3 linked regions of the Homo sapiens genome follow. The protein of the gene in region 1 interacts with the protein of each later gene in a biochemical or structural test. Each region holds a gene or a part of one and is shown in the gene's direction. Other genes may lie near its edges. The genes, in order: ABCA1, PALS2 and SNTG2.

Region 1 (3,654 bases):
GGTATCTTTGTAATGGAGAAGCATACTTTACAGGAACATTAGGCCAGATTGTCTAACCAGAGTATCTCTACCTGCTTAAAATCTAAGTAGTTTTCTTGTCCTTTGCAGTATCTTATCAAACATCCATGAAGTACATCAGAACATGGGCTACTGCCCTCAGTTTGATGCCATCACAGAGCTGTTGACTGGGAGAGAACACGTGGAGTTCTTTGCCCTTTTGAGAGGAGTCCCAGAGAAAGAAGTTGGCAAGGTACTGTGGGCACCTGAAAGCCAGCCTGTCTCCTTTGGCATCCTGACAATATATACCTTATGGCTTTTCCACACGCATTGACTTCAGGCTGTTTTTCCTCATGAATGCAGCAGCACAAAATGCTGGTTCTTTGTATCTGCTTTCAGGGTGGAAACCTGTAACGGTGGTGGGGCAGGGCTGGGTGGGCAGAGAGGGAGTGCTGCTCCCACCACACGAGTCCCTTCTCCCTGCTTTGGCTCCTCACCAGTTGTCAGGTTATGATTATAGAATCTAGTCCTACTCAGTGAAAGAACTTTCATACATGTATGTGTAGGACAGCATGATAAAATTCCCAAGCCAGACCAAAGTCAAGGTGCTTTTTATCACTGTAGGTTGGTGAGTGGGCGATTCGGAAACTGGGCCTCGTGAAGTATGGAGAAAAATATGCTGGTAACTATAGTGGAGGCAACAAACGCAAGCTCTCTACAGCCATGGCTTTGATCGGCGGGCCTCCTGTGGTGTTTCTGGTGAGTATAACTGTGGATGGAAAACTGTTGTTCTGGCCTGAGTGGAAAACATGACTGTTCAAAAGTCCTATATGTCCAGGGCTGTTGTATGATTGGCTTGTCTTCCCCCAGGGACAGCAGAGCAACCTTGGAAAAGCAGAGGGAAGCTTCTCCCTTGGCACACACTGGGGTGGCTGTACCATGCCTGCAGATGCTCCCAAATAGAGGCACTCCAAGCACTTTGTTTCTTAGCGTGATTGAGGCTGGATATGTGATTTGATCTTTCTCTGGAACATTCTTTCTAATCATCTTTGTGTTCATTCCCTGAAAATGAAGAGTGTGGACACAGCTTTAAAATCCCCAAGGTAGCAACTAGGTCATAGTTCCTTACACACGGATAGATGAAAAACAGATCAGACTGGGAAGTGGCCCTTGACCTTTTTTCTTCTGTAGATAAGAGCATTGATGTTATTACGGGAAGAAGCCTTTGAGGCTTTTATGTATTCCACCTCGGTCTGGAATTTGTTTCTGTAAGGCTAACAGTTGCAATATACTAGGGTAATCTGAGTGAGCTGGAATTAAAAAAAAAAAGGAATTTCACCCCAATCTTATACTGACTTCAATAGAGGTTTCAGACAAAAAGTTGTTTTGTATATACTTATCAGTCATGAAAAGATAATTACAACTAAATGGCCTTTTTCCTTCCCTATTTATTTGGAGAAATTTAATTACATAAAAAAGTACTCAGAATATTTGAGTTTCCTGCATCAATAAGACATTTATAATAATGACCTTGTTTACAAATGAATTTGAAAGTTACTCTAATTCTTTGATTCATCAAGAAATAACTAGAATGGCAAGTTAAAATTTAAGCTGTTTCAAAGATGCTTCTGCATTTAAAAACAAATTTATCTTTGATTTTTTTTCCCCCCAGCAAATAAGACTTATTTTATTCTAATTACAGGATGAACCCACCACAGGCATGGATCCCAAAGCCCGGCGGTTCTTGTGGAATTGTGCCCTAAGTGTTGTCAAGGAGGGGAGATCAGTAGTGCTTACATCTCATAGGTCCGTAGTAAAGTCTTGGGTTCCTCACTGTGGGATGTTTTAACTTTCCAAGTAGAATATGCGATCATTTTGTAAAAATTAGAAAATACAGAAAAGCAAAGAGTAAAACAATTATTACCTGAAATTATATATGCATATTCTTACAAAAATGCAAGCCCAGTATAAATACTGCTCTTTTTCACTTAATATATTGTAAACATTATTCCAAGTCAGTGCATTTAGGTGTCATTTCTTATAGCTGGATAGTATTCCATTAGGATATACTCTTATTTAACTATTCCCCCTTTTGTAGACATTTGGATTATTTCCAACTTGTTCACAATTGTAAACACCACTACACTGAACAGCATCATCCCTATATCCACATGTACTTGTAACAGAATACAATTCCCTAGGAAGCTGGAATGCTGGAAGTCATGGTGATGTTCTCATGGTTACAGAGAATCTCTCTAAAACTAAAACCTCTTTCTGTTTTACCGCAGTATGGAAGAATGTGAAGCTCTTTGCACTAGGATGGCAATCATGGTCAATGGAAGGTTCAGGTGCCTTGGCAGTGTCCAGCATCTAAAAAATAGGTAATAAAGATAATTTCTTTGGGATAGTGCCTAGTGAGAAGGCTTGATATTTATTCTTTTGTGAGTATATAAATGGTGCCTCTAACATAAAGGGAAATAAAACTGAGCAAAACAGTATAGTGGAAAGAATGAGGGCTTTGAAGTCCGAACTGCATTCAAATTCTGTCTTTACCATTTACTGGTTCTGTGACTCTTGGGCAAGTGACTTAACTACTGTAAGAGTTAGTTTCCCTGGAAGATCTACCTCCTAGCTTTGTGCTATAGATGAAATGAAAAAAATTTACATGTGCCAGTACTGGTGAGAGCGCAAGCTTTGGAGTCAAACACAAATGGGTTTGCATCCTGGCCCTACCAATTATGAGCTCTGAGCCATGGGCAAGTGACTAACTCCCTGGGCCTCAGTTTCTCTGTAACATCTGTCAGACTTCATGGGTCCAGGTGAGGATTAAAGGAGATCATGTATTTACAGCACATGGCATGGTGCTTCACATAAAATAAGTATTTAGTAAATGATAACTGGTTCCTTCTCTCAGAAACTTATTTCTGGGCCTGCCAGGGGCCGCCCTTTTTCATGGCACAAGTTGGGTTCCCAGGGTTCAGTATTCTTTTAAATAGTTTTCTGGAGATCCTCCATTTGGGTATTTTTTCCTGCTTTCAGGTTTGGAGATGGTTATACAATAGTTGTACGAATAGCAGGGTCCAACCCGGACCTGAAGCCTGTCCAGGATTTCTTTGGACTTGCATTTCCTGGAAGTGTTCTAAAAGAGAAACACCGGAACATGCTACAATACCAGCTTCCATCTTCATTATCTTCTCTGGCCAGGATATTCAGCATCCTCTCCCAGAGCAAAAAGCGACTCCACATAGAAGACTACTCTGTTTCTCAGACAACACTTGACCAAGTAAGCTTTGAGTGTCAAAACAGATTTACTTCTCAGGGTGTGGATTCCTGCCCCGACACTCCCGCCCATAGGTCCAAGAGCAGTTTGTATCTTGAATTGGTGCTTGAATTCCTGATCTACTATTCCTAGCTATGCTTTTTACTAAACCTCTCTGAACCTGAAAAGGGAGATGATGCCTATGTACTCTATAGGATTATTGTGAGAATTTACTGTAATAATAACCATAAAAACTACCATTTAGTGAGCACCTACCATGGGCCAGGCATTTTACTTGGTGCCTAATCCTATTTAAATTAGATAAAAAAGTACCAAATAGGTCCTGACACTTAAGAAGTACTCAGTAAATATTTTCTTCCCTCTTCCCTTTAATCAAG
Region 2 (3,654 bases), on another chromosome or scaffold:
ATGGCTCTTATTATTTTGAGGTATGTTCCTTTAATACCTAGTTAATTGATAATTTTTAACATGAAGGGTTGTTGAATTTTATTGGAAGCCTTTTCTGCTCTATTGAGGTAATTATGTAGTTTTTGTCTTTAGTTCTGTTTATGTGATGAATCACATTTATTGATTTGCAAATGTTGAACAGACCTTGCATTCTGGGGATGAAGCCTACTTGATCATGGTGGATTAGCTTTTTGATGTGCCGATTGATTTGGTTTGCAAGTATTTTGTTGAGGATTTTGACATTAATGTTTGTCAAGGATATTGGCCTAAAGTTTTCTTTTTCTGTTGTGTTTCTGCCAGGTTTTGATATAAAGATGAGGCTGCCCTCATAGAATTAGTTGGGGAGGAGTTCCTCCTCAGTTTTTTGGAATAGCTTTTCTGTAGGAATGGTACCATCTCTTATTTGTACATCTGATAGCATTCAGCTGTGAATCCATCAGGTCCCAGGCTTTTTTTGGTTGATAAACTATTTATTACTGATTCAATTTCGGAGGTTGTTATTGGTCTATGCAGGGAATCAATTTATTCCTGGCTCAGTCTTCGGAGGTTGTATATGTCTAGGAATTTATCTCTCTTCTAGGTTTTCTGGTTTGTGTGCATGGAAGTGTTCATAGTAGTTTCTCATGGTTGTTTTTATTTCTGTGGGTTCAGTAGTAACATTCCCTTCATCATTTCTAATTGTGTTTATTTGGCTCTCCTCTCTTTTCTTCTTTATTAGTCTAGCTAGTGGCTTGTCTATTAATTTTTTCAAAAACCCAACTCCTGGATTCTGATTTTTTGTTGTTGTTGTTGTTGTTTTAATTTAATTTAATTAATTTTTTTTTTTTTTTGAGATGGAGTCACTGTGTTGTCCAGGCTGGAGTGCAGTGGCACGATCTCGGTTCTCTGCAGCCTCCACCTCCCAGGTTCAAGCAATTCTCCTGCCTCAGCCTCCCAAGTAGCTGGGACTAGGCAGTCACGTGCCGTGACACCCAGCTAATTTTTGTATTTTTAGTAGAGACAGTGTTTCACTATGTTGGCCAGGCTGGTCTTGAACTCCTGACCTCAGGTGATCTGCCCACCTCGGCCTCCCAAAGTGCTGGGATTACAGGCGTGAGCCATCATATCATGCCCAGCCTCATTGATCTTTTGGAAGGTTTTTTGTGTCTCAGTTTTCTTCAGCTCAGCTCTAATTTTTGTTATTTCTCATCTTATTCTAGCTTTTGGGTTGTAAATCAGAATTTTCATTAGAGGTTGCAAAATGACGTTTTTCTGTTCTACATTATTAGCTAGTATTCTTCCATAATGTAGAGCTTCTCATCAACTGGGCTGCTTAGTGCATTTCTACTGAAGAGGCAGGAATGTACTTGATCCTTCCTTTTACTAAGTTTCAAAGTGAAGAGCTGTTTAAAATTGCAGTTTCAAGTGGTAACAAATGAGTTTTTTCAGTCTTTTTTTAAATAGCATTGTGGATCTATGGATTTTTTATTCAGTGTTTTAATCTTTTACAATCCCTACTTTTGATTTTCAAATTGCCGTGACTTTGACGAGTTGTGGGCAAATTTTTACTATAAAAATCTGAAGCACATGAGATTTCTGAACTAGAGATAGAAATTTAAGAGTTGTCAATGCATAAGTAGTGGCTCAAGTCACAGGAGTAAATGAAACTGCCAAAGGAGGATATAGGGTGGAAAACTAAGCAGCGCAGGTTAGCAACTTCCAGCATTTATAGGAAGAATCCTTACATATGGATTTATGAGTTGTTTTATTGAATTTTTTTCTCCAGTGTTTCACAAATTGTTTTATGAAATGACCAGAAATTACCAATTATCCTGATTGCTTTTTTCCCGAACCTGTTAATATTTGCTTCTTTCTATTTTGATTTATTGTTTTTGAACTTGAATTCTATCCAGCCCCTCAAGAATGTTAACTTATCTTTATGTTGAATATGCACAGTTGCAGTAAAAATTATTCTTTTTTTTTTTTTTTTTTTTGAGACAGAGTTTCACTCTTGTTGCCCAGGCTGGAGTACAATGGTGCAATCTCGGCTCACTGCAACCTCTGCCTCCCGGGTTCAAGCAGTTCTCCTGCCTCAGCCTCCCGAGTAGCTGGGATTACAGGCACACACCACCACGCCCAGCTAATTTTTTGTGTTTTTAGTAGAGACAGAGTGTTGCCATGTTGGCCAGGCTAGTCTTGAACTCCTGACCTCACATGATCCACCTGCCTCGGCCTCCCAAACTGCTGGTATTACAGGCATGAGCCACCGCGCCTGCCCTAAAAATTATTCTTTTAGGATAAGAAATGAAAAAAAATTTAACATTTTAGTATTAATTAAGAAATTCCTTGGGAGGCCGAGGTGGGCGGATCATGAGGTCAGGAGATCGAGACCATCCTAGCTAACACGGTGAAACCCCGTCTCTACTAAAAATACAAAAAATTAGCTGGGCATGGTGGCATGCGCCTGTAGTCCCAGCTACTTGGGAGGCTGAGGCAGGAGAATCACTTGAACCCAGGAAGTGGGGGTTGCAGTGAGCCGAGATCACACCACTGCACTCCAGCCTAGGTGACAGAGTGAGACTCTGTCTCAAAAAAGAAAAAAAAAAAGCAATTCCTAGAAAGCTAGATCAAAACCACCCATGCTGGTAGCACATACATAGTAAGTATAGGAGGTAAAAAAAATACGTTATATTCGGGACTATTACTGACTTGTTTTTTTGCTCAAAAAATGTTCCTTTTATAAACTAAAACCTTTATTGGTAATATAAAATTTTTTGTCACTGATATAAGATGCTAATATTTATCCATTTTCTGTTGGACATCTTTTAACAGACGTTTTCTACATATAAAAAGTATATCATATTACTAACATAGCAATGTTAGGTAAAAATGTCATTTGAATTTGAATTTTTATGGTATTTTAGTAAATAGGATTGATGGTAAATATTGAATGATATGATGACAGTGGTGGCAATAAAACCCAGTACCTTCATTGCACCAGACTGGAAACCTAGGTTCAGTTTCCAGTGAACTTGCCAGTTTTTAAAAAGCATCACTAATATCTCTTCATATCTCAAAGAAGGAATATAATATTGTTTGATGATAATAAAACTATATATTTTTATATCTCTTAAAAATTATATATTTATTTGATCAACCTGATATTTGGGAATTTAATACCATGTGCCTTGGAAATTTTTAGTACTCCATTGGAATAATGAAATAACAAAGTACTTTTAGTAACAAATTTCATCCACATATCATAAATAACCACAGGCTATTTTGACTCCTTATAGTCACTGTTGGAGGCCCATGATATTGTGGCATCAAAGTGTTATGATTCACCTCCATCAAGCCCAGAAATGAATAATTCTTCTATCAATAATCAGTTATTACCAGTAGATGCCATTCGTATTCTTGGTATTCACAAAAGAGCTGGGGAACCACTGGTGAGTACAGATAAATCAGTACCCTATTAAATCTGAAATATGACATAATTTGTGGTTCAGTCACTACTCTGTTTCATTTTTTTTCCTTTTCATAATGTTATGAAAACTGTATTCTTGTTTGGCCTGTGTATAAAGACACAGCTGATGCTTTCTCAACTTGGTTTAGCCTGCAAAATTTAACTAAAAT
Region 3 (3,654 bases), on another chromosome or scaffold:
CCAAGTCTGGTTTTATTCCTAAAACGATCATGGTCTGCAGCAAGGTAGATAGAGAAAGTCCAGCCTTTGTATTACCTCCTCAGAAACACTAGAAATTTTACCACCTCCCTGCTTGAGGGGGAGCAACGGATGGGGAACGGTGGTGGGAAGTAGCTCTGGGTCTCAGGCCTCCTTTTGAAAGTTGGGGGTTTGGCGATGATTAAGTGCCATTTGGAGAATTGCTTTATCATGATGCACCTTACGTACGTGCAGACACAGACACACAGAATTTAGAGAAGAATGATTGAGTACCTATTAATTGCCACACACTGAGCTGGAAGCTAAAGATAAAAATAGAGTAGAACACCTCTCAGACCAGGCCAGTGGGGCCCTGACTACCTGAGAGGCAAATTCTAGACAAGCAGACACGAAACAGCACAGGGCAGCTACAATGTGTTCCCTCTTCTATAGATGAGGTCGGGCAACATTTGTCTTCCGGCACATGGAAGGCGAGACTGGTACTGAGACTGAGACTGAGACTGAGACGGGAGAGATGCAGTCACAGGCCAGGGGCACCTGCAGCCACCAGAGCTAGAGGAGGCAGGAAGGAGGCTCCCTGGAGCCTCTGGAGGAATTTGATCCTGGACTTCTGGCTTCCAGAACTGTGAGAAGATAAATGTGCATTGTTTTAAGCCACTAAGTTTGAGGAAGTGTTGTCATAGCAGCCGTGGGAAGCTAATCAGTCTTTTTAGGTAAGTAATATAGCTTTTAGGGAATATCTTCTTAGAAATGTAGGGAATTTGAGCCCAGAACCCCCAGGTTAGAACTTACCTAATTGCTAACATCTACTAGGTACTAAGAGCTCTTTGGAGGGCTTCGTTCCTTTAACACCCCTGGGGTACTGCTGATGCTCCCCACCTACACATAAGACTGTAGAGACGGCAGGTGAGGTGTGGTCCGCATGGTGGCTGCAGCCCCTGGGCGTCTGACTGTGAGAGAGATGTCTCTATCCCACGTGCAAAGGCTGAGAAATGGCCCCAAATGCGTTTCCTTTAAGTGGTTATTGCTTGTGAGACAAAAGGATAACAACAGGAATTAGGAAATCAGAATCAGGAGGAATATACAACTGTTTTCTTATAACTGAGGTTGTCATACAAAATGGGAACAGGTTCATAAGTCGAGTAGATGGCAACAGCTCATGCAGCCCCTCCCCACACACATAGCAGTGAAATGATGTTGAGATCATGCAGAGTACTATGTGATATTCTCCAGATTTGGTGCTTCAAGATGGATTTTTCATAAAAAGACTCTGCAAAGATATGACATTTTATTGAAGCTGAACTAGCAGAAGCTTTGTCAATTACCTACACTGTAATTGCTTTAAAAAGGAAAAAAAAGAAAACCTCTAAAGTCACCATTATCTAAATTGGGGTTAAGAATTTGAAAGGTATTGAGAACATGAATTTGTAACCAAAATACATTATAATCTAAATAAATGGTCTTTTTTTTTAAAGTGGTTCATTTGAAATCCAGAGAGATATGAAAAAAATTGTGTGGACTTCCAAATTATTTTCTATTTTAGCTTTCTAGATGTAGTACAGTAAAATGTACTATTTCTTACATAGTTTAATATTTTGATGTTAGGAGTTATAGTATCAAACATGCCTTATGACAGTCAAAATTTTGGGATAGTACGATATCTAAAACAATGATGCTTGGGTAAGAGTTAAGAAATTAGAACCAAACTCTGAAACTGCTAATAACAAAAGGTAATAAAGGATAAGGACTCACACACAGATAAGACCACTTTTTCTCTGTATATAAAATACATTTGTTCTTTGTAGCAACAAAATGAAATAGAACAAATTGTAATATATTTTGTAATGTATAACACTTATATAAGGTTTAATTATATTTAAAAAATTCATTTCTATGTTGAATAATATTGTAAATTTAGTAATCGAATAAAGAGGAAAATCTAGTAGCTGAAAAAAGGAAGTAAACTGAAAGCTTTCCTATCAGAACAAGATACAAACCCACTAGGAAACAGCTGCATATGTGAATTACGTGCTTTGTAAGCGCTGGGATGTAAATATTCTTTTATGCAACTCTTCCTTATTGAATTGAGGAGAGGACCAGCACAGATCTATGAAAATGCTATGAGCTTTATGTATTGCAATTATTTTCTTCCAAAGCTTTATCAAATTTTGTCGTGACCTACAGATTCTTTTGGTTTTAATCAGGGTGGAATCAGAATGCTTTTAGATTTGTAATTTCCATGTTGGCAGGAGGAAGGGAGTCAGGGAGGCCTGGAGTCGGGGGGAGGTCCAGGGTTCAGCTGTGCTAGGGTCGCCTGGTGCAGGGGGCTGCCTGGGGGTGTGGTGTTCCCGCAGTGGGCTGTGCAAAGTCTCAGGGCGGCCTTTGCTTTACTGGCCTTGGGCTGAATGGAGAAGGTGAACGGAGCAGACCAGTGTCACAGAATTGCATCGTGCAGGCCTTGCCTTTGTGACCCGGGGCTGGAGGCTGCATCTCGGGTGCCGCTGTGCAGATGGAGGGAACCTTTGGGGATGTGATTTGAATCTTCCTATCCCCTTCTTTGGAGTAAATACATTTCCTTTATTCCTTTGATGTTTGTATGAATAGTGGCATGGTATCCGTATCTCAGTACTGAAAGTGAATATGAGATGGAAAAATACAAGGAAGGAAAGTTCCTGTGACCTGGTCTATACCTATCTAGCAGCTCATAGATTTCCTTCTGGCTTTTTCTGGTGTATATTCTGTAAGTTAAACTCATCCTCAAGATAGAATTTTCTATCCTGCTTTTTAGAATTCTCATTATAAAATGATAATTTTCATAGTTTGCTAAGAAATATCCATCAATTACCATCATCCCCCTGCTTAAGGTTCTTCTGTATCAGTGGAGAGGCTTCGGGCAGGTGTTCCCGTAGGAGGGGGCTCTGTTAATGACACGGTCCTTTGCCCTTCTGTCTGGAAAGCAGCACCTGTCCTTGCTGCACTGGCTCAGGCGTCTGTGACTAGGGTGACAGTGTTGCTTAGGAATCCCAGCTGATAGCCAGGCCTGTTCCCTGGTAGGATCCCACAGTGGGGAATGCTGGGCTTCTGGGCCCCACAGTTCTCCCGAGAGCTCGGGCTGCCTGTTCTCCTTTGTTCTCTCCTTTGTTGGGAATGCTTCAGTGCACGATGCTTTTCAGGGTAGGGTCATGTGTGCCTTATTTTCTCATCGGTGAGATTGGATTCCTGTTGTCTCCCAGGTGAGCCCTGGAACTCAGGGTTCAGCTGGATGCAGACAGAGGACTCTGCCCTCGTGGAGGAGCTGGGAGCACGGTGAGCTCTGAGGGTTCCGGGGCACGGCTATAGGTTCTGAAGGGGGTGCTCCTACTGCCTGCTCATGGGAGCACGGTGAGCTCTGAGGGTTCCCGGGCATGGCTGTAGGTTCTGAAGGGGGTGCTCCTACTGCCTGCTCATGGGAGCATGGTGAGCTCTGAGGGTTCCTAGGTTCTGAAGGGGGTGCTCCTACTGCCTGCTCATGGGAGCACGGTGAGCTCTGAGGGTTCCCACGCACGGCTGTAGGTTCTGAAGGGGGTGCTCCTAATGCCTGTTCATGGGAGCACGGTGAGCTCTGAGGGTTCCCGGGCATGGCTGTTGGTTCTGAAG

What was found.
Region 2: the proteins of ABCA1 (region 1) and PALS2 interact in a test that uses a peptide from one of them, tested with the Homo sapiens proteins (one large-scale study listed by IntAct).
Region 3: the proteins of ABCA1 (region 1) and SNTG2 interact in a test that uses a peptide from one of them, tested with the Homo sapiens proteins (one large-scale study listed by IntAct).

The regions. Positions count from the first base shown.
Region 1 is NC_000009.12:104,785,022-104,788,675, reverse strand, and holds part of ABCA1 (phospholipid-transporting ATPase ABCA1), read left to right. Parts: exon of another isoform or gene 1-108; coding exon 109-250; exon of another isoform or gene 251-621; coding exon 622-756; exon of another isoform or gene 757-1,059; intron 1,060-1,699; coding exon 1,700-1,803; intron 1,804-2,285; coding exon 2,286-2,378; intron 2,379-3,036; coding exon 3,037-3,280; intron 3,281-3,654. UniProt on the Homo sapiens protein: Catalyzes the translocation of specific phospholipids from the cytoplasmic to the extracellular/lumenal leaflet of membrane coupled to the hydrolysis of ATP.
Region 2 is NC_000007.14:24,646,298-24,649,951, forward strand, and holds part of PALS2 (protein PALS2), read left to right. Parts: intron 1-3,314; coding exon 3,315-3,467; intron 3,468-3,654.
Region 3 is NC_000002.12:957,212-960,865, forward strand, and holds part of SNTG2 (gamma-2-syntrophin), read left to right. Parts: intron 1-3,654. UniProt on the Homo sapiens protein: Adapter protein that binds to and probably organizes the subcellular localization of a variety of proteins. May link various receptors to the actin cytoskeleton and the dystrophin glycoprotein complex.